Regions from separate parts of the Homo sapiens genome. Here all the other regions are linked to region 1. The links come from fine-mapping of genetic effects on gene expression. A gene starts in region 1. Each other region holds a variant in brackets. All regions are shown on one strand. Distances are from middle to middle.

Region 1 (5,875 bases):
TAGTCACCTGGAGTCGTACAGCCAGGGACCGATGGATGGCAACTTGGTCAGAATGTTGAGGACAGAAGCACAAGTCAGATGCTCCTCTGTGATCCTCTCAAACCTGACTTTTTTGTTTTGTAGGCTCTCAGAGCACTTTTCTAAAGAACTAGTTGGATGATGTTGACCCTAGGGATGGTGCCTGCAAGACCAGGCTCTGGCCCCTCCCACCACCAGCTTTGGGCATGAGGGACAAGAAGGGAATTCTCCAGCAATCCCCCTGCCCCCTGGTCTGACAGCCAGGCTGGAACATGAGCAGAGAGATTCTGAGTCTGAGAACAGGGGCCAGAGAGGATGGGTTTACCCTCTTGATCTTCCCGAGGTAGTACAGGCCATCTGTCCACCGGCACAGCACATACTGGCCCTCCGTCAGTTTGGACATCAAGTCTTTGAAGTTGTTCTTGACCTTCGCCAGGGCCCCCTTGTTGGGGAGGTGGCTGGTGGCACCATAGGAGTCCCGAGTCCCTGGATCCAGAGCTCGATTCTCCATCAGCTTCCCCTGACACTGGGAGAGAAAGAACAGGGTTTTTGCTTCTTGCTTCCCTGCTTCAGAAAGCCCATCAGGGGAAGGAAGGAAACCACCATTTCTGTACCCTGTGCTATAAGCCAGACTTGGTTATTATCTCACTGATTCCTCGTGACCATCCTATGAGGGAGACATTATTATTATTCACATCTTACAGATAGGGAAACAGGTGTGGCAAGGAGAAGAGGCTGATGGGCCAAAGGCAGAGCCATGGCCCATACCACACTACCTTTTAAAGAGAATGGATCTCTCAACCCACACAGAACAAAGTCCCCTACCCAGCGGGCCTGAACCACTCCCTGTCTCAGGAGGCTGAGGTTTTATTCCTTAAGCAAACACAGTCCATGTGCTCTGGATGGAGGATCTTCTCCAGGCAAGCAGTTGGGTTTTGTTTTTACCCCCAACCCCTGCAACCATCCCTAACCTGAGATCTGTCCAGAGAAAATTCACCTAGAAAGGAAAACTGGGTGGCTTGTAGCTAGTGTAGACTGGGTCATCTGTCTTTTGTAATCCCCCCTTCTGTTCTCAATTATGAGATGATTTAATGGAAACCAATTCTGGGACATTTAAACCCACTTATGCTTTCACCCAGATACACATTTGCTCCAAGCAGTGAAGTCATCCATCCCCATGCCAGCCTCTCCACGCCTGTCTCTCACCATCCTATTCAACGTGCAGTTCACCCATCGATTTCTCTCTCCCTGCCTGTGGTACTGCCTTCATGCATCTCAAACTCCTCCAAGCAATTAGTTGCCACAGCCGGCCCATTTTAAGTGCCATGATTTCTGGCTTTCCAGCTCTAGCTTCCATCCTCCTGCCCTGGTCTCAGTTCAGGCCTCATCTTTTGCTTGGGCCATTCATTCATTCATTCATTCACCCAATAACAGTTTCCTGGGCCTTGTGCTTACCTCCACTAGGCACCTAGGGTGGGGAACGGTACTACCAGCACCCAGTGCTAAACAGGCCGTTCCTGCATTCCTGCCTCTCCACCAGACTCTTCCGCAGGGCCACCAATTTCCTTCCAGAAACTTTCTGGGGCTCCCCACTGCCCTCACTGGTGCTCAAAGCCGTCCCTAACGCCCCCTCCTTTCTGCTGGGCTCACCTGGCTCCAAGTCCCTCCACATGCTCTCCACTACAGCCACACACAGCCTCTCTCTTTCCCCGCGGGCCTACTCGGGTCTCCTCCTTGTGGCCATGGCGCTGGGCACCTGGTGTTGTGACTATCTGTTCACAGGGAGAGAGTCCAGTGCCTGTTTCTGTGTGGTGCGTGTGTGTACTCCTGTGAGACTGGGCAGGATGATGTCTACGGCATTGTGCCAGGGAGTGTGTGAAGCTAAGTATGTGCGGGGCCCTGGGGCGAGCCAGGCACTGCAGGGGTCTCGGCTCCCCAGATGGTGGCGTGGCCACGACCTTCTCCACCCCCACTCCCATCTCCTTTTTCTCCAGCGCAGAGCGCACAGGCTCCCGGGCAGGGGATGCGGTCTGAATCCCTGTCCTCTCCCTGCCACCTGGCTCGCCCGGCGCTGCGAGGTCCCCGCCCGCCCGGCCAGGGGCCAGGCCGGGGCCGCTGCAGGTTCACAAACTGACACTTCCTCTCCCGCTGCGCCTCTAGGAGCCGGCCGGGTCGCCGCACCCGCCTCCACCCTGGCCGGGCGGGGGCCCCCGGGTGGCGCCCCCCCAGCCCCCGCCTCCGTCCTCCCGGAGCGGGCCCCCGCGGGCTGTGATTGGCTGATTCAAACCCATTTGCAAAGAAATGCCTGTTTGCGGGTTCCCGTCTGCGTCCAGTTCAAATCCGCGGCACCGGGAGCGCGGGGCCGGGCGGGGGCAGGAAGCGAGGATGATTCATGCGCCGGGGCCTCTCCCAGGGCGGCCGTTGGCTTTTTAAAAAGGATGTTCAGGAGGGGGGAAAAAGCTTGCAGAAGCACCCCCTTCGGGTTCAGCGCTCCTCTCCTCAGTCGCTCGGACGCCAAGCCTCCCCCATCCCAACCCTGCCGCAGCCTGACTTCGGACGTGAGCGAAATGCCAAACGCCCGTCTGTCCTTCCCCCACCCCGATAGGAAAATTAAAGATCGGGGGCGAGGAAGAACGACCTGTCACCCATGCCCCCCGGGGCTCGGGAACCCGGGTGGGGCCCCTCTGCCCCGCAGGTAACCTGCACCCCCGGTCCCCACCCCCGAGAGCCCCGCTCCGCAGGAGTCTCACCCCCCGGAGGCGTTCGGGCCGCCAAAGTTCAGGGAGATTTCGAAAAGAGAGGGATGAGGGCCGGGAGGGGAGAGCGTGGCGGGGAGTCCGCCCAACAGCGCAGAACTCACCGCGAGGCTGCGTGTCCGCCGGTCCCACTTGGAGTCTGGCCACCAGGCGCATCGGTGGCGGAGGCGGCTGCGCTCGGCCCGCGGCTGCCCGGCCGAGTGTCCGCCCGTGGGGCCGGGGTCGGGGTCTCGGCGGGGGCGGGGCGGGGCGGGGGCGCCGCGGGGAGGAGGGGGAGGCGGCGGAGGGAGGGGCCGGGGCGCTCAGGAAGGGGCCCCCCGGGCGCGGGGCGCCATCTTTTTCGCGTTTTCCCGCGAATTATTGACGTCCCGCTTATGTAATTAGCGGGGGCCGCGCCGGCCTCGCCATTGGAGCCCGCGGCCGCCGGGCTCCGCAGCGCCGCCAGCCCCCGCCCGCCCCCGCCCGCCCCGCGGGCGCGCATCCTCCGCGGCCACTAGCCAGGACCCGGGCCCCCCGCCGAGGAGCGGCCACACCGCGGCGCACACGGAGACGCCAGGCAGCGCTCATGGCGCACACGACCGCTCGCACACTTGTTGAGGAAACACAGCTCTGCGCGCAGGCACCGGCGGACCCTGGCACAGACACACAGCAGGGCGGCGCGGACCCTTGGCGCAGACACAGACCCAGGACGCCCAAACAGGCCACACAACACCTTGCACTAACAGCACAGGCGTTCGGCACAGAGACACAGCACAAGTATAATGTAGATACACAACACACAGTGCACAACGCATGTTGTTCCGACACAGGTCAGAACACACCACAGCATGTACAGGACACAAACACACCACAAAGAGAAGTACTGTACACACCAGCCATAGGCATAGATACACAAGGGGGAACACACTGTACACAACAGAGACACACAACAGAACATGCATGTAAGGTAGACGGACATAACACATAAAGTCACAACACAGACGGGCAAGAGACACAAGTTTTCCTGAAAAAGTGGCATTCAGATAGGTTGTGGAAATAGGTTAGTGGGTGTGCCAGGTGGAGGGAATTCAGTGGGCTAACAATGCAATTTTTAAAATACGGGTTAAGGATATCAAAAGGCAATTCACAAAAGAGGAAACCTACATGGCCGAAATAGCCCCAAACAACAAATTGCGTAGAGACACAGTGCACAGAAATACATGGTACAATCGCAAATATATACCACACGCACAACATGTCATGTAAATAAAGGGCACACAATGAAAGACAACATGCACAGAGTCATAGGAATGGCAGATGGAGTCAGTGGGCAGAGCTCCAATCATAGGGACCCTGCCCTGTGGGGGAAAGGCAGACATGGCCCCACCCAGACTCACTCTTGGGGGAAGGGAGGAAGAACACTTACCAATAACCCCACCCCCATCCTTGCCCTCAGTCCACAGCGCCCACCTCTGTGGCTACCATCCCACTCTGCAGACACCCCCACCAGACAGGGATATGTGCTTTCATGGGTGTGGCCAGTGGACAGCACCTTCCCCCAGAGCCTTCCCTGTTCACTGTCAGTTGCTCACTCTGGGCCCTCTGCCTCCTGGCCTTGGAGCATGATCTGTGCAGCCCCCCACCTCACCTTCTCAGCAGAGATCCAGGAGTCCTTTCACCTCCTTCCTCACTTCCTTCTGCCCCTTGATCCCCCTGCTCTCACCTGCCTCACTGCCCCATTCTGGATCCTGGCGCCTCAGCAGAACCTAGCACTGCTGAGTACCTGCCTGAACCTGGAAGGAAAGCCTGGGAGCAGCCCCATGGCACAAAATCTCCCAATCCTGGAGAGCACATTTTCAAGTCCCAAAGGGGCCCTAGGATTGTGCTACTTAACCATGTTCTGCCAAGAGAAGGTGTGTCCAACGCGGGTAGGGCTGATGATGGGAGCAGAACACTCCCACTAGCTTCTAAGCTGGCTGGGTCTGCCTTCAGGATGCTGGGGGACAGAGATGATAGAGCGAAGTGCTCACCTCTGAGGCTACAGGCCAGCTCCACCCATTACTGGCCATGGGAGCCTGAGTGTGTCACTTCTTTCTTTCTTTTTTTTTTAAACAATTCTTGCTCCAGAGACTTTAAGTCTTAAGCCTCCGTGTCCTCACCTAAATAGAGTTATTGGGAAGGTTAGAGTTAATGTATGCAAAGCCCCTGGTGCCCAGTAGGTGTGCAGTAAGTGATCATTGTATTAATACTTTGTTAAGAAATTCTGTATTCAGAATCTTGATTGCCCCACTGTGTGGGACTAGAGCGGGGGGATGTGAGACACACAGGTGGATGGGAGACACACAGGTGGATGAGAGACAAGGAACTGGCAACCTCGTGGAGGAGGCGGTGTTGATGCATAGATAAATAAGAGGGGATTGTGCTGTGAGCTGCACGTGGAATTGAATTGTCCTGGCTTCAAGTCCAGCTCTGCCTCTGAGCCAGGGCGGGGTCTTGGGTTAGCTAGACCCTCCTACACCATGTTTCTTTATCGGTTGAAAAGAGGGTAATAATACTACCCATCTCGTGGGGCTGTTGCATAAATGTTCAAATAAGACAATGAAGGAGCAGGTGCTTTTGTAAACTAAAAAGTTTGATATGCAAAATAAGAAGTTAAAACACTACAGAACAGGAAATTATAAATGCCACAAGAAAGGTACGGTGTCACCAGTGATTATTTAGAGGCAACTCTAAATTCGAATTGAGGAAAGAGAACAAGTTTCCCGGAAAAAGTAGCAATCAGTTAGGTTGTGGAAATAGGGAGGTGGGTGTGCCAGGTGGAGGGAGTTTAATGGGCTGACCAACAATCCAATTTTTTAAATATGGATTAAGGATATCAACAGGCAACTCACAAAAGAGGAAACCTAAATGGCTAAAATAGCCTAAAATGTGAAAAGGTGCTCAACCTTATTGGCCACGTGAGAGACGCAAATGAAGAGAACTGTGATACACCATTACACATCCACCAGATGGGCACGGAGTCGAGTCTGTCAATATAGGGGGGTGGGGGGTGAGGATGTCGCACAGTTGGGACCCTCAAATACCTATGGAGATATGAACTGGTAAAACGATTTTGGAGAACA
Region 2 (5,875 bases), 70 kb after region 1:
ATTAGGGCTGATAATGTTACTTCCGCTTTCTAGATGGGCAAATTGAGACTTGATGAGGTTCAGGAACTCTCCCAAGGCCACAAGTCAGGGCAGCTCCTCTGTTTCATGGTTCAATGTCTTACTTCTTCACTGTATCACTTCCCCATACTAACTCCTCCTTTCTCTCTCTGTCTGTCAGTCACACACACACAACATAGCCAAATCAGTGAGCCATTTTAATTTCGACACCCAGCATTTATTTAATGAACAGACCACAGTTTGGCCTTTCGCCTTTAGAGGTGAAAGGAGGAGGCAAGAAGAGGATGAATGACGACCAGCCTTGCCCCAAGGCCCTAACAGACTCAGGAAACCTTTCTGCCTTCTCCTCCAACTCTAAGCATATCTCCTTTCCCTTCCTCTTCCTTTGCCCTCAGAGAATTACAGTCTAGTCCTGGCTCTAATTTCCTAAAGGTTCTTTATTTGGAAAATATATTATTAAGCCAAACAATCCTTTCCTTAACTCCAATTTCTCTTGTCTCATTCAGTTTCAACCCCCCTCCCACCGACCACCCTTCCAACACCAACACACACACACACACACACACACACACCCCTCCAGCCTAACAACAACAACACCAAAACCCTCTGATTGCTCCCAACTCATCTGTTAGACATGTTAGCCCTGGCCCTCACCACCAGGCTCGGGTCTCTGCTTGCCCCTGCAGGCAATGTTTCTATTAGGCCCTGAGGAGACACCAGGCTGCATATAGGAAGGCAGAGGAGCCTGGTGCTGCGGGTTCTAGCCCCAGCTCTGTTGTGGAACCCTCTTGGTGAGTCCTGGCTCCTCCCTGGGCCTGCTTCCTGGTCTGTGAAATGGGGAGGCATTGATGAGATGATCTCTAGAGGATCTTTAAATGTCAATATTTTATGAATCTAAGTAGGATGTTCACAGGTAAAAAATTATTGAATTTACCACCTCTAGTGTGCCAGAGAGGTATTATTACCCAGCCACAAGTTACTTTTATTGTGCCAGGCACTGTGCTAATCATTTTATGTGCATTATCTGTATTATCTCATTTGAGCCTTGCAGAAATCCTCTGACTTGGGTATTATTAGTACTTCTGTTTTTCAGATGTGAAAACTTCACCTTTTTATTAAAGCAGTCAAGTAGATGTTTTCTTGACTATTAAAAGTCTCTCAGCACTGAAGGGACATTAAGCCCCCTACCTTGAATTGCCCAGAAACATCCCTGGAAGGTGGCAGCTAGACTCTGCTCAGATGGCCCCAGCAATAAGGAACTTGGACCTGACTCTACTTTTGAATGGCTATGGCTATAAGAAAATGCTTCTTCACAGGGAGCCAAAACTGGTGTCTCTGTAACTCCTGCTCATCTCAGTGGTGGGAAGAATGCGGTGTTCAGAGGCCTCACTTGGGCTTCTGTCCTGGCCTTTCCATTTATCAGCACCATAATCCTAGACAAGCTGCTCCTCTGGACCTCCATGTTCACAGGCAAAAAATGAAGGAATCGGATGAGATGAGCTCTAGGTCCTTTCTGGTGTGGGCATTTTAGATTTGTATAATTCATGACTGTGCATGTAACATACACATATCTGACTATAATGATGGAAACAGAGAAGGAGTGGAATTTTGGTGGCGGGGGGCCTCTGTCAGGTATGAGGCTGTGAGCATGGTGTGTGTATGTGCATGTTTCTGGGACAGGGGTCTGTGAAAGAGAAGAGTGGCCCTGGACAACTGGCGTGAGGCCTCGGTGTCCCTGGGAGCCAGTCTGGTGCCCAGAGCCAGGCTGGGGTGTTCTCTGTGTCTGATGTCATAGAACATCAACATCAGACAAAATGGATCCATACTAAAAACGACTACTCTATAATCATGTTTGAGCAGGATATAAAAACAAGAACATTGTCCAAACCACAAAAATGACCACACACACCCTTTTCCTGGCTAAAGTGAGTAAGTGCTGCTACTTTTCCTCCCAGCTAGAAAAGAAATAAGATACTGGGTCATAGGATTGCCCCTGCTTCCTGAAAGCATCCAATCCAGAGTAAAGTTCCATTTCTTTGAGGCTCCTCCCAAATACTCTATCACAAGTACAAATCCTATAATAAGGCTTTTCTAATGCACTCTCACCGAGAAGCCTTATGGTCCCCATGGTGTGTGTTCTCCCTTGTTGCAAAGACTCAATAAACTGAAACTTGTTCAGTTCCAGGTATTCCTGGTTGTCTTGATTGGAGGGAATTGATAAGTCTATAGCTTTCATTAGATTCTGAAAAGGATGTGTATGTGGCTGGAGAAAATCCCACAACCCATGCTGATCAGTCCCACTTTAAATTCATGACTAGAAACTTCAAGTGGACCCTTAATACGAAGAAGCAAATATATTACAAGTCCTTAGTTGGTTCAGCCTCCCTCTCTTTTAGATAACTGTCTCACCCTTCTTTCCTCCCGTCACACCTCCAATTGCTCCTCCCTATCCTCCATCTCAGGTGATGATCTTCATCCTACTTCTCTGAGAAAGGGACTTCCACAGACTCTCACCACATCTACCCCTTGCCAGCGTCTGCTGCATGTGCTCAGCTTCTCTGCCTACAACCATGGGTCATGGATCAGGGATCGGTATGCTGCTGCCCAAGGGCTAAATCCAGCCTGCCTAGTCCATGCCCATTCTTTTCTGCATTATCTATGGCTGCATTTGTGCTACAATGAGAGAGTTGAGCAGTTGCAATAGAGACTTATGAGAATTATGGCCCACAAAGCCTAAAATATTACAGTTATTTTAATGCATGGCTCTTTACAGAAGTTTGCTGACCCCTGGCATAGGTGAGCTAGTCATGTTCTTATTTAAAGCCAAGTCCTCCACTTGTGCTCCAGATCCTATCCACTCTTACCTCTTCAAGGACATTACTCTAGTAGTTCTCCTTTCTCTCTCCTGCATCGTCAATTATTTACTCTTTACTGAGTCATTCCCTTTAGAACACAAATGTGTTATTTCTTCCGTCTTAAACTTTCCTTCACTCTACTCCCCTCAATCCATTTCTTTGCTCCTTGAATGAGTTGTCCATACTCCCTGTCTCCAAATCCTCTCCTCCTATCTACTCTTAAATCACTCTATTCAGGCTATTCTTCCCACTACTCCACCCAACCTGCCCTGTCAAAGTCACCAATGCTAAACCCAACAGCCAAGTCTTCATCTTACTTCTCTCTGAAGCATTTGATACAGTTCAACACTCTTCCTCCCAGAACCTCTTTCTTTTGTTTGGCTTGAGGGGACCTCATCTCTTGTTTTTTCTCCTAATTCAATGGATCCTCTATCTCTTTTCTCTAATAACTTCATCTTGGAATGCTCAAAATGTCTATCCTTGGTCTTCTTT[T/C]TTTCCACTCCTCTGTCTGTATTCACATCCTTAGTGATCTTAACTAGTCTAATGGTTTTAGTATGCTGATGATTCTCAGATTTATGTTTTTCAGCCCAGAGCTCTCTCCTGAACTAGATAACTATATGACCAATTGCCTTCCAGGCTCCTTCACTTGGATGTTTAATAGATTTCTTCTAAAATTCAACACATCCAAAACTGAACAGATTCCTAACTCCCCACAACCTGCTCCATCTGCAGCCTTCCTAATCTCAGGCAACTCCATCTTTCCAGTTGTTCAGGCCAAAAGTCTTGGCATCATCCTTGACTCCTTTCTTTCTCTCACACTTATTTCCACTCTATCAGGGAATTCAGTTAAACCTACAATATTAGTCCCTTCAATTAAGCCTACTGTATTAGTCCCTTTTGTATTGCTATAAAGGAATACCTGAGGCTGCATAATTTATAAAGAAAAGAGATTTGTTTGGCGCACGGTTCTGCAGGCTATACGGGAAGCATGGTGCCAGCATCTGCTTCTGGTGAGGCCTCAGGAAGCTTACAGTCATGGTAGAAGGGAAAAAAGAGCCTAAGTGGCACATGGTGAGAGAGGAAGCAACCAGCTAGAAGGAGGTGCCAGGCTCTTTATAAACAATCAGATCTCGTGGTAACTCACAGAGTAAGAACTCTCATTACCATGGGGAGGGCACCAAGCCATTCACGAGGGATCCACTCCCATGGCCCAAACATCTTCCACCTCGCCTCACTTCCAACACTGGGGATCACATTTCAACATGTGATTTTGGGGGACAAATATCCAAACTGTATCATTTACTTTTAAAGTATATCCAGAATTCAACCACTTTTCAATACCTCCACTGCTACCACTCTGGTCTGAGGCACCATCATCCCTCACCTAGTTTATTACAGTAGCCTCCTATCCGTTCTCTTTACCCTTGCCTTATTTTCAACAGCAGTTACAGTAGTCCTTTAAAAAGGCAAGACAGACCATGTCACTCTTCTTTTCAAAGCCTTGCAATGGCTCCTGTTTCCTTCCAAGTAAAGCCAAAGCCTCTTCCATTGGCTTCATAATCTGCACCTGCCACCCCTGCTTCCTTGCTTTTCCTGTGACACACCAGCATGCTCCTGCCTTAGGCCGGACACTATGTACCAAGAGTGCCAGGAACACTCTCCCCTTGGCTAGCTATGTGGCTCACTCTTTCACATCCTTCAAGTCTTTGCTCAAATTTCACCTTCTCATTGAAGCCCACCCTGACCTGGCCACCCTATTTAGAACTGCAACCCCTCCCCTGACCATTACCAGTCTCCTTTAGTCTGCTTTTTCTTTTTCCCATTGCTCTTATCACTTTCTGAGATCCAAGACTAATTGCTTAATTATTCTCTTTATTTTTTATTACATATCTCTCCCAGTTGGAATCTATGTTCCACAATGGCAGGGATCTTGGTACCAAGCACCTAGAATTGGGCCTAGCCTGCAGTCACCAATCAATACATGTTTGTTGGGTGTTGCTGAATACATCAGCATCATAGGGTCTGGAAAGAAAGACTAAACATGACTTTGGTCCAGAATTTCTCACTGAGAAATATGGAGCAAGGCTGCTTGCCTCAACCTTGGCTCACAGACCTCCACGTGTTTTCTTAAGACAGAGTATCTTAAACGTCAATCATTTGCATGCCAACTGCATGATTTTTGCCCTAAGAATAAACTTACTTTTATTTACTCAATACTTTTTCTTAAATAGACTTACTTCTTGGAAAATAGATTTATTTTGGAAGAAAATGTTACATCATGGCTTTGATGTGCTAATTACTTTTTTAAAATACATGTTAAAATAAACATATAGCCACTAAAGTGAACAATGTGCATCGTATCACCTAAGAACATCTTGCTTACCCCTGGGGAAACCTGCCTTAAGCGTTGCCCCTTAACCAGAAAGGCCTTCCCTGTACCTCCCACCTACCCAAATCCCAGTGTCCTTCTACAGAAAGCCTTGGCAGCTCTTCCAGCTTACTTCTCTGCACTGTCTCCATACTTACAGACAAAATATGTAAGCCCAGGCCGGCCATAGTGGCTCACGCCTGTAATCCCGGCACTTTGGGAGGCCAAGGGAGGTAGATCACCTGAGGTCAGGCGTTCGAGACCAGCCTGACCAACATGGCGAAAACCTATCTGTACTAAATACAAAAAATTAGCTGGGTGTGGTGGCACATGTCTGTAATCCTAGCTACTTGGAAGGCTGAGGCAGGAGAATTGCTTGAACCCGGGAGGCGGAGGTTGCAGTGAGCCGAGATTGCGCCATTGCACTCCAGCCTGGGCAACAAGAGCAAAACTGTGTCTCAAAAAAAAAAAAAAAAAAAAAAGAGAGAAAGAAAGAATGAAATACATAAGCCCAATATTTGGATGCTTATATGCCGTTTGGTTTTTCCTGTTTCACATCATAAGATTATAGAACATCTTCTTAGCTATAGATAAAAGAGACATTAGAGTGTCCAATTCCCTTATTTTATAGGCT
Region 3 (5,875 bases), 96 kb before region 1:
CATTCCCAGCAAGCCACAGTGTTGTCAAAGGAGCCTGTCACAAGCTTCTGTTCATCAAACTTCACCGCTGCACAAGTGTGGGTCTGGATGCCATAAACGCACTGCCCTGTGCTCACATCCCACAGCTTTGCAGACAAGTCATCTGACCCTTCAAGAGAAAAACAGGGAGGTTAATAAGAAAACAAACACACTAAAGAAGGAAAATCAATCCCAAAATCATGGTGTTCTTCAAGAACATTAACGGTCCCTTCCTCTAGCACTTTACTTTACCACTGAAGAAATCAAAGCACGGAGAGAGTAACACAACTTGCTTAGAGTCACCAAAACGGAGTCAAAAGCACTAGGACAGAATCCAAGCTTTTTGGGTGAGACACTTTCCCTTAACTTTTCAGGCTACAGAAGGTCATTAGACTAAAAGCATCCCTTGGTGCTTCCACTTGAAAAATTTCATAAATCCTTGGCTATCACGAGCTCTCTGATTTGACTTCAAATAAATAGGTATTACACATGACTGCATGTTTACACTTGCATGCTTGTCCATTACCCAACAGTTCTGAACAAATAAGGATTGTTAAATAGTAAAGGTGTTTGCTGAAATATATTCCACTCTAAGGCAAGTCAAGGACAAACCTCAGAGCCTGGGCTAACTTCTGCAAAAGCTAACTGCTAATTGCTCCAGTCATCTTGAAATACGTGAAGGAAGAAACCTCAAGGAAAACCTGGGATAAATTATCCCCAGATATTCACAACTCAACAAAAAGTTTGTAAAGCCTCTTAAGATTCTGAAGGGAAAAGTTGGCTTTATTTCTGCCTCTGATGAAAATTCTATACTAATCATGGTGACAATTCAGGACTTTGCTTTAAGTTTAAAATCCTAATGATTAATTCATTCTTACAATGACCCTTCAATAAGCCTCAACAAATAAAAAGACATTTTTGAGAATCCACTAAATACAGTCACTATGATAATGGCACAGTATCCTAGGAAAGCACCAAATGACCAGTTTTTAAAAAGCTGAAATGACTAAAGCCAGCCACAATTCTACCTTCAGTCAAGAACCACTGTTTGAGACAATGGAAAAATAGCCATCACTTATGAAAGAGCTAGAGTATGAATTTTAACCTGGGAAAACTATGATAGCATACTGAAATAAAGACTGTATTTATTGTCACTTTGCTATTTAGACTGTTTCCTTCTGTATAAAAAGAGGGGTAGGACTTGGTTGGTTCTCAATGGCCATGTGATACAACTTTATCAAAACACACAGGCAGGTCCCTATTTTCAGAGAGTTTAACTTGGGGAACATCTGAGGCAGGGTCCAATAATCTTAAAAGTTTGCCAGGTGATTCTAACTCATCAGCAATATTTTGAGAGCCAATGGTCTAGAACGGTGCTATCCAACAGAAAATATAATGCAAACTGCAGATATAATTTAAAATGTCCTAATAGTTACATTAAAAAAGAAATGTTGGGCCGGGCGCAGTGGCTCATGCCTGTAATCTCAGCACTTTAGGAGGCCAAGGCAGGCATATTGCCTGAGCTCAGGAGTTCAAGACCATCGCGAAACCCTGTCTCTACTAAAATAAAAAAAATCAGCCGGGCATGATGGCGCGCCTATATTCCCAGCTACTCGGAAGGCTGAGGCATGAGAATCGCTTGAGCTGGGGAGGCAGAGGTTGCAATGAGCTGAGATCACGCCACTGCATTCCAGCTTGGACTACAGAGGGCCTCCACCTCAAAGAAAAAAAAAAAAAAAAGAAATGTTAGCCAACATGGTGAAACCCTGTCTCCACTAAAAAAAATACAAAAATTAGCCAGGCATGATGGCGTACGCCTGTAGTCCCAGCTACTCAGGAGGCTGAGGCAGGAGAATCACTTGAACCCGGGAGGAGGTTGTAGTGAGCCAAGATCACACCACTGCACTCCAGCCTGGGCAACAGAGGAAGACTCTGTTTCAAAAAAAAAAAAAAAAGAAAATGTGTTAAAATAATTAAATGTGTTTAACTCAGTATGTCAAAAATGTCATTTGAACATGTAATCAATACAAATATTGAGATATTTTATATTCTTTTACATTGTATGTCTTTGAAACCCAGTATTTCACACCTCCATTTGGACTAGCCACAGCTCAAGTACTCAAAAACCACATGGCGCTAGTGGCTACTGTACCGGAGAGCGTAAGCCTAGATAGTCTTTAAGGCCTTCAGTTCAGGCATGTTGTGACTGTATTCCTAAGGAGCTAGAGTAGGAAAGGAAATCATTTTAGGTCCTTTATGAGCTTGGTTTTGGTTACCAGTGTTCAACTGGGGTCTCATTCATTCATTCAACATATATTTATAGAACTTCTGTGTCAGGCAGGATTCTTGTTCTCATGGCACTCAGTCTACTTGGGAAGACAAAAAGGCTAAACAAGCAATAATAATTCAGTATAGTAGCTGGCAGGCACTACAAAAGCCCATAGCAAATACAAGGAGAGGACAAGAAGAGAAAACATCTCAGACGAGGCTCCACTGAATTTATGACCATGCTCTATAACACGTGCCTTAGGAACTGGCATGATTGGTTCTTCAACTACACTCCTCTTTTGTTTTTAAGCTGGGCTTTGGTATAGGACTGTTTCAAGAAAGAATATCATGGCAAAAAAAAAAAAACCTTTAAGTTTTAACTAATTTAAACCTAAGGATGAATAAGTTAGCCAGGCCAAAACAAAACAAAAGGAATAGTATATACCAAAACTTTTTCTGTAAAGGGCCTGATAGTAAGTATTTTAGACGTTGACCTATTGAGTTGCAATTACTCTCTTCTGCTGGATTTGGCCCACAGTCCACAGTTTGCCAATCCCTGGTATATACCTATTAAAGCAACTATTAAATATCTCTATATGCAACACAAAAATTATTGAAAAGGAACTGGGATCAAGTCATAAAGAACTATTTGGAATCATTCAAAAAACCGTCTAGGAGTTATTTACAATGCTTGTCAAAAGCACTGCCTAAAACATGAACACTGATTATGAAAACAGTTCAGTCTGACTGCGAAATAGTGGCAAGGTTTGGCTGCAGAACTGGGTTAGGAGGTTGTTTAACTATGACCTTATTTGCATATCAGAAAGATCACTATGGCTATATCATGGAAAAAGGTTTGAAGGGGGGAAAACTAGAGGCAAGAAGGCAGTTAAAAACCAGGGGAGAGGACAAACAAAATGTGACACATACATGGAATATATTTTATATACATACACACACACACACACACACACACACACACACACACACA[C/CACAT]ATACACACACACACATATATACATACATGGAATGGAGTTATTCAGCCTTAAAAAGGAATAAAATTGGCCGGGTGTGGTGGCTCACACCTGTAATCCCAACACTTTGGGAGGCCGAGGCGGGAGGATCACCTGAGGTCAGGAGTTTGAGACCTGCCTTACCAACGTGGAGAAATCCCATCTCTAATAAAAATACAAAAATTAGCCAGGCGTGGTGGCGCACGCCTGTAATCCCAGCTACTTGGGAGGCTAAGACAGAAGAATTGCTTGAACCCGGGAGGCGGAGGTTGCGGTGAGCCAAGATGGCGCCACTGCACTCCAGCCTGGGCAACAAGTGCAAAACTCCGTCTCAAAAAAAAAAAAAAAAGAATAAAATTCTGAGATGTTATGATATGGAAGAACCTTGAAGACATCATGCTAAGTGAACTAAGCCAGCCACAAAAGAACAAATACTGTATGATTCCACTTATATTAGGTTCCTAGAGTAGTCAAATTCATAGAAAGTAGAATGGTGGGCCAGGCATGGTGGCTCATGCCTGTAATCCCAGAACTTTGGGAGGCCGAGGCTGGTTCACCTGAGGTCAGGAGTTTGAGACCAGCCTGGCCAACACGTTGAAACCCCGTCTGTACTAAAAATACAAAAATTAGCCAGACACGGTGGCGCATGCCTGTAATCCCAGCTACTCGGGAGGCTGAGGCAGGATAATCGCTTGAACCTGGGAGGTGAGGTTGCAGTGAGCCAAAATTGAGCCACTGCACTCCAGCCTGGGCACCAAATTGAGACTCTGTCTCAAAAAAAAAAATAAAACAAGCAAGCAAGCAGAATGGTTGTTTTGCCACAGGCTGTGGGGGAAGGGGCATGGGCAATGTTTAACTGACAGGGTTTAGGCTGGACATGGTGGCTCATGCCTGTAATCCCAACACTTCAGGAAGCTGAGGCAAGAAGAGTGCTTAAGCCCAGGAGTTAGAGATCATCCTGGGAAACATGGTGAGACCCCATCTCCATAAAAAATACAAAAATTAGCTGGGCATGGTGGCACACACACGTAGTCCCAGCTACTTGGGAGGCCAAAGTGGAAGAATCGCTTGAGTCCAGGAGGTAGAAGTTACAGTGAGCCAAGATCATGTCACTGTACTCCAACCACTCCAACCTGGGCTACAGAGTGAGACCTTATCTCAAAAGAAAACCCCCCCAAAAACAAACAAAAAAATTGGATACAGTTTAACTATATAGTGTATTATATACTGTTTATACAGTTAACACTGTATAGTGTTTAACTGATACCATTTTAGTTTGGGAAGATGTAAAGTTCTGGAAATGGATAGTGGTGATGACTGCACAACAACGTAATGTACTTAATGGCACTCAACTGTATGCTTTAAAATGATTAAAATGGTAAATTTTATGTTATGTATGTTTTCGCACAATTTGCAAAAAAAAAGGTTATCCAAACTAATTATTTAAACTAGTTTTTATAGGAAAACATTGTGCCAGTTTTACACCCTAAAAAAAAATAATAATAATCAGGTTGAGTCGAGTTCCATTTATAGTGATGCAAGTCTACTCCTGAGAATCCTTTAGGAATCACTGTTCTCTGCTCCTTTCTGGCTTTATGTCAGCCTCCCCTCTGGACTCCCATTTGCTGCACTGGCTAACCCAACATGTTTTCAAAGAGGTCACCAGTGATGCAGCATAGAGGTGAAAGAGGACTAAAGAAATGTGGACTCTCACACTGCACGAAAGAAAAAAATCCCTCCCCATTCAGTATCTTAAAAATCTTAATAATACTTTAAAAAAAATCAGACTATTGCACAGAACTCTAGATTTCAGGCTTCTCTTGAAGTCAGATCTAACAACTCTGACCCTGAATCCCACCCACATGGCAATAATTTATTACAATGGAGCACCAGCTGCACTCTTTAGAAAGGCAAGTGTTCTTGATTTGCTATAGTCCACACAGAGACTTTTACCTCAGTCAGGTCATCTTCCTGGTCCCAGTGTGTATGTTCCACAAGAAAAAACTGCTCTAATTCATCCGTGTATGCCCTCACATTGTTTTTCAAACAGTAGGCATCCCATAAGTAAATATCTACTGAACAGCACAAAGCATAATAGATTCCTTTCTTACCATTTCAGAAATAAATTGCGAAAGAGAAAGATAACTACCTCAATGTCATTAGCCATTAATCTCTTCAATAAAACTGTCTATTGCTTACTCAAGGCACTAATGTGAGAGTCACTAAGTTTATTGCCAAATTCAGGGTTTCCCAATTCCACCACAATGAGAATTCAATCTCTTAAGTAACAAGATGACACAAACACATGTACAATTCTGTCACAAATACCTCTCTTCACAGTTCCAGGGATGCTGCTGTTAGAAAAATTAAACTAATACTTTGGATCATTTTCAACCACTGCACAGCGTAATTTTAAATATGCAAACCTGATGAATTTAATCAGAATAAAAATCACATTAACATACAGACCCACCAAGAGAATAATCTTAAAATGTAGAATTGTAGATATTAACTTTCCAGGTAGTTAGAGAATTCAGTGAATATTTCCCATTTACTTCCACTCCAAGTAACTGCAGTTTTTA
Region 4 (4,000 bases), 41 kb after region 1:
AGGTGGGAGGATCGCTTGAGCCCAGGGGTTCAAGGCTGCACTGAGCTATGATCACATCACTGTACTCCAGCCTGGGTAGCAGAGAAAGACCTTGTCTCTCTTAAAAAAAATAAATGAATAATGAACAGATACAATCTATGAAAGTATCTTATAAAGTTAAATCATACTTATAAAATAATTTACTTATAAACCATACTTATAAAGTTACCATACAATCCACACATTTCACTCCTAGGAATTTACCTAAGAGAAAGTAAAACATATGTCTGCACAAAGGTGTGTATGTGAATGTTCATGGCGGCTTTGTTCAAAGCAACCCAAATGTGTCATCAGCTGGTGAGTGGGTAAACAAATTGGTCTATATATACTACAGAACAACCAAATGGAATTAAATACCAGCATAAATAATAACATGGATGAACCTCAAAAACATTATGCTAAGTGAAAGAAGTCAAACACCAAAGACTACATACTACCTGTTTCCATTCTTACGAGCTTCTAGCAAAGGCAAAACTAGAGTGACAGGAAGTAGATCAGTGGTTGCCTCCTGGAGCTGTGGGTGGGGAGGGGACTGACTATGCAGGGACACAAAGCAGCTTTATCCCGTGCAGAAACATTTGCCATTTGACTGTAGTGGCGGTTACATGATTATTTATATTCATCAAACTGTACACTTAAAATGAGTGAGTTTTATGGCATATAAATAAAATCTTGATTCTATAAGCGCTTTGTTATTTATTTATTTTTTTTTGAGAGAATAATCTCATGGAACCACGTGAAAGGGGATTTGGACGAAAGCAGGAGAGGACAGAGGTCTTTCGGACTGAGCAAATACAAAAAGTCACACTAGTTATTATTCTTTAAAAGTAACATAACCAGAGAGCTGTGGGCTTAATGAGTACAGTTGGGTTGAGACACAGAACACAGCCCAGCAAAGGCCACCCTGCCCCCACCCCCACCCACCAACTGCCCAGGGCTTCAGGGACAAGTTGTTCCCAATAAATAATAGAAAACAGATGTTCTATGGAAGGCAGGCAGAGGGCGGCCTTGGCAGGGAGACCGTGCTGGCTTCGGGAAGTCTGTGGTGATGAAACCTCCCCAAACATGTAGCTTTTGACATGTGAGAACAGTGGAGGGAAGATGCTATGTGTAGACCTGGCTCCTTGGTGAATATACCTGGGGGAGCCTTTCAGGTCCCACCCCTCCCCACAGGTCCATGATTCCAATAGTCTGTGGTTCTAAGGGTCAAAGCTTGGTGGGAGAGTCATAAAAGAGATAAGAACATGAAAATGATCAAGCTAAGAGTGAAATTCCAGACATCACCCCGCAGGTGGAGGGGATGTGTCTTTCAGCAGCGGAGCTGTCCTGGCGTTGTGTGAACAGCAAATGTCTGTTTTAGGGAGTGAAATGCTATTCAGATGTAGGGACATCCTTCTGTGATGCGTGTACAGATGTGGACTGTGATGAGCCTTGAACAGTTGCTGGAGAAAGGGGCAGGGGTGACTTGAGAGGCTTTCAGAGGCTTCTCCATCATCATTATTCATTCCTTAGAGTGCACGGGAGTTCAGGATGTGGCCTCTGGAGCCAGCCTTTTGGGGTTCAGAGCTTGTTTCTGTCACTTCACATACTAGCTTTGTGGCTCTGGGATAGTTACTAACTCCTCTGTTCTGCAGTTTCCTCATCTGCAAAATGGGGATAATAATAATACCCCCTTACAGGGTTATTGTGAG[G/T]ATTAAATGAGATAATACATGTAAGCACTGGTATTAGTTACCCATTGCTGCTGTAACAAAATACCACAAACTTAACAGCTTAAAACAACACAGCTTTATTATCGTACAGTTCTGGAGGCCAGGGGTCCTAACATGGAAATGTCAGCAGGACTGCGTTGCTCCTGGAGGCCCAAGGGGAGGATGGCTTCCTCCCTTCCCCAGCTTCTCAGGGCTGCCTGCACTCCTTGGCTTGTGGTCCCTTCCTCCATCTTCAAAGCCAGCAGTGGAGCATCTCCCCTTCTCTCTGACCCTCATCTCCCTCTTCTGAGGACACTTGGGCCTCCTGGATAATCCAAGGTCACCTCCCCATCTCAGAATCCTTCATTTAATCGTGTCTGCAGAGTCTGTTTTGCCATTGTTATGGGCTCAGCAACCCCCACCCAAATCAGATGTTGAAGTCCTAACCACCAGTATCTCAGAATATGGAGACAGGGCCTTTAAAGAGCTAATTAAATTAAAATGAGGTCATTGGGGGTGGGCCCTAATGCAATGTGACTGGTATCCTTTTAGGAAGGGGAAATTTGAAGAAGGACCACATGAAGACATAGGGAGGGGACAGCCATGTCAAGGCAAAGAGAGAGGCCTTGGAGGAAACCAACTCGCCAATACCGTGCCTTGAACTTCTGGCCTCCAGAACTGCGAGGAAATACATTTCTGTTGTTTACACCACCCAGTCTGTGCACTTTGTTATGGCAGCCCTGGCAAATGCATAGAGCCATGTGAGGTCACATACTCACAGGTCCTGGGGATTCACATGTGGACATCTTTGGAGGACATTATTCTGCCTAACACAGTGTTCAATAAATATGAGCCATTATTACTAATAATAAATTAATAGTAATAATGGCTCATATTTATTGAAATTATTCCATACTACTACTGAATACTTGTTGAATACTACTGCTACTAATAACACTAATAATACTAATAGTAGTAATACTACTAGTATTACTACTAATTAGTATTCTTATTCCTGTGGATTAAGCACTGCCCCGGGACATCTCCCAGTCCCAATCCCTCAGTGGCTGTCATATACATGTATCTCATTTAATCCTCACATCACAAACTCTTTAACAATGAACTCTCTAAAACTCCATTTTCCCACTGGATTTCCTCAAGGTGGTGAGGAACATTCCTAAATGAACAGGACCAAAATATGTTTGAATGTTGTCCCATAGGATCCCTGTGACAATCATCTGAGGCAGGTGGGGCTGTATTAGAGTCACCTTAACACAGGCAGAAACAGAGGGAATGGCTTAAGGTCATGCTGAGCTTGTGAGCAGAGGAGCTGGGCACACCTGTGCATTCTCTCTCACAGTTGTGAGCCCCTGCATGGGCTTGCTGCTCTCCTGGCACTCATGTAGACACTGTCCCATCAGATCCTCACAGCCATGAGGGGGAGGTTGGGGCTCTGAGGTTCTGCTTCCCTCGGGTAGGTGGAGAAGCCGAAGCCCAGGGGCGATCAGTGACTTCCAGGAGGCAACGGGGCAGGCGAGGGGAGCCCAGGAGCCTGGAGTCCGTGTGCAGGCTCCGTCCTCCCCACCATAGTGTCCTTGCCTGGGGTGGCCTCACTCAAAGGCCAGGGACCGAGGGGACAGGAGAGGGAATCAGGAATCAGACTGCATTGCAGGAGAAGAACAGAGGATCTGTCCTGGGCCAACCCTGTCTGGTGTCACAAGTGGCCCCTGTGTGAGTGGCCTCACTGCTTGCAAATTGCTAAAAATAAAGTGTGCAGTGGAATTTCCTCCGAGGAGGAGACAGAAACAGAGAAAACAGATTCCCAGCCCTGAGGGAACACTCGTTCTTCTGTCTGGGTCTGAGGAGTCTCTGCGTGTGTGGTGTTTCCGGCCACCCTGGCTACCCAGGCCCTTTGTGGTGGGGTCACAGTGGGCCCTAGCGGGGGGCCCCATTCTGAGACCTGGGGCCTCCGGGAATGTGACTGTTAAGAGGGTGCTGGGAGCATGAGTGCCACCTCTGCAGCCCCTGCACAGAACAAAGAGGATCTGAGCAGGCCAGGCACTGCCTACCCCCACACTGGGCTGAGGTCAGGGATGCCCGGAGGGGCTGCTGTGACTCAGGTCTCAGCTGGTGCTGAGGGGGTGCTCTACAGTCACATGGGGAGCTTGGTCAGTCTGCCACTGTCCGCCCGTTCCTGCCCTCCTCTGTAACTGGGCCGGTTTACTCTCTGTCAGCCTCTGCTCAGCTCGACCGCCACCTCCTCCAGGAAGCCC

Which allele goes with the higher level. Positions count from the first base shown, and alleles are read on the strand shown. Sizes are in standard deviations (SD) of each study's normalised expression. Not every link is listed here.
With allele CACAT in place of C in region 3, the expression in CD8 T cells of the gene that starts at base 2,976 in region 1 is higher (moderate effect, 0.48 SD a copy in CEDAR).

Evidence for each region. PIP is the estimated chance that this variant, and not a neighbour inherited with it, causes the effect. A credible set is the group of variants that fine-mapping cannot tell apart.
Region 2: its variant is the best candidate, but not a certain one, in a credible set for the expression of PHF19 in whole blood (TOPMed, PIP 0.70).
Region 3: its variant is the best candidate, but not a certain one, in a credible set for the expression of PHF19 in CD8 T cells (CEDAR, PIP 0.81).
Region 4: its variant is the best candidate, but not a certain one, in a credible set for the expression of PHF19 in blood mononuclear cells (TOPMed, PIP 0.67).

The regions. Positions count from the first base shown.
Region 1 is chr9:120,874,213-120,880,087 of GRCh38, forward strand. It overlaps PHF19 (PHD finger protein 19), which reads right to left and starts at 2,976. Exons shown (of 15, transcript NM_015651.3): 1 at 2,879-2,976; 2 at 344-544. The coding sequence starts at 529. RefSeq lists enhancers at 1-2, 1,813-2,404, 3,416-3,465, 3,726-3,775 and silencers at 1,996-2,445, 2,726-2,775, 3,016-3,295.
Region 2 is chr9:120,944,519-120,950,393 of GRCh38, forward strand. All of the region lies in intron 1 of C5-OT1 (C5 3' UTR overlapping transcript 1), which reads right to left. Among named protein-coding and RNA genes, the nearest start is that of C5-OT1, 5.4 kb to the right of the region's middle. RefSeq lists an enhancer at 328-377. The variant T/C (reference allele first, on the strand shown) is at 3,366.
Region 3 is chr9:120,778,398-120,784,272 of GRCh38, forward strand. FBXW2 (F-box and WD repeat domain containing 2) reads right to left here. Exons shown (of 8, transcript NM_012164.4): 4 at 1-148. Among named protein-coding and RNA genes, the nearest start is that of FBXW2, 12 kb to the right of the region's middle. The variant C/CACAT (reference allele first, on the strand shown) is at 3,278.
Region 4 is chr9:120,915,736-120,919,735 of GRCh38, forward strand. The region is part of intron 3 of TRAF1 (TNF receptor associated factor 1); the gene reads right to left. Among named protein-coding and RNA genes, the nearest start is that of TRAF1, 9.1 kb to the right of the region's middle. RefSeq lists an enhancer at 3,630-3,779. The variant G/T (reference allele first, on the strand shown) is at 1,731.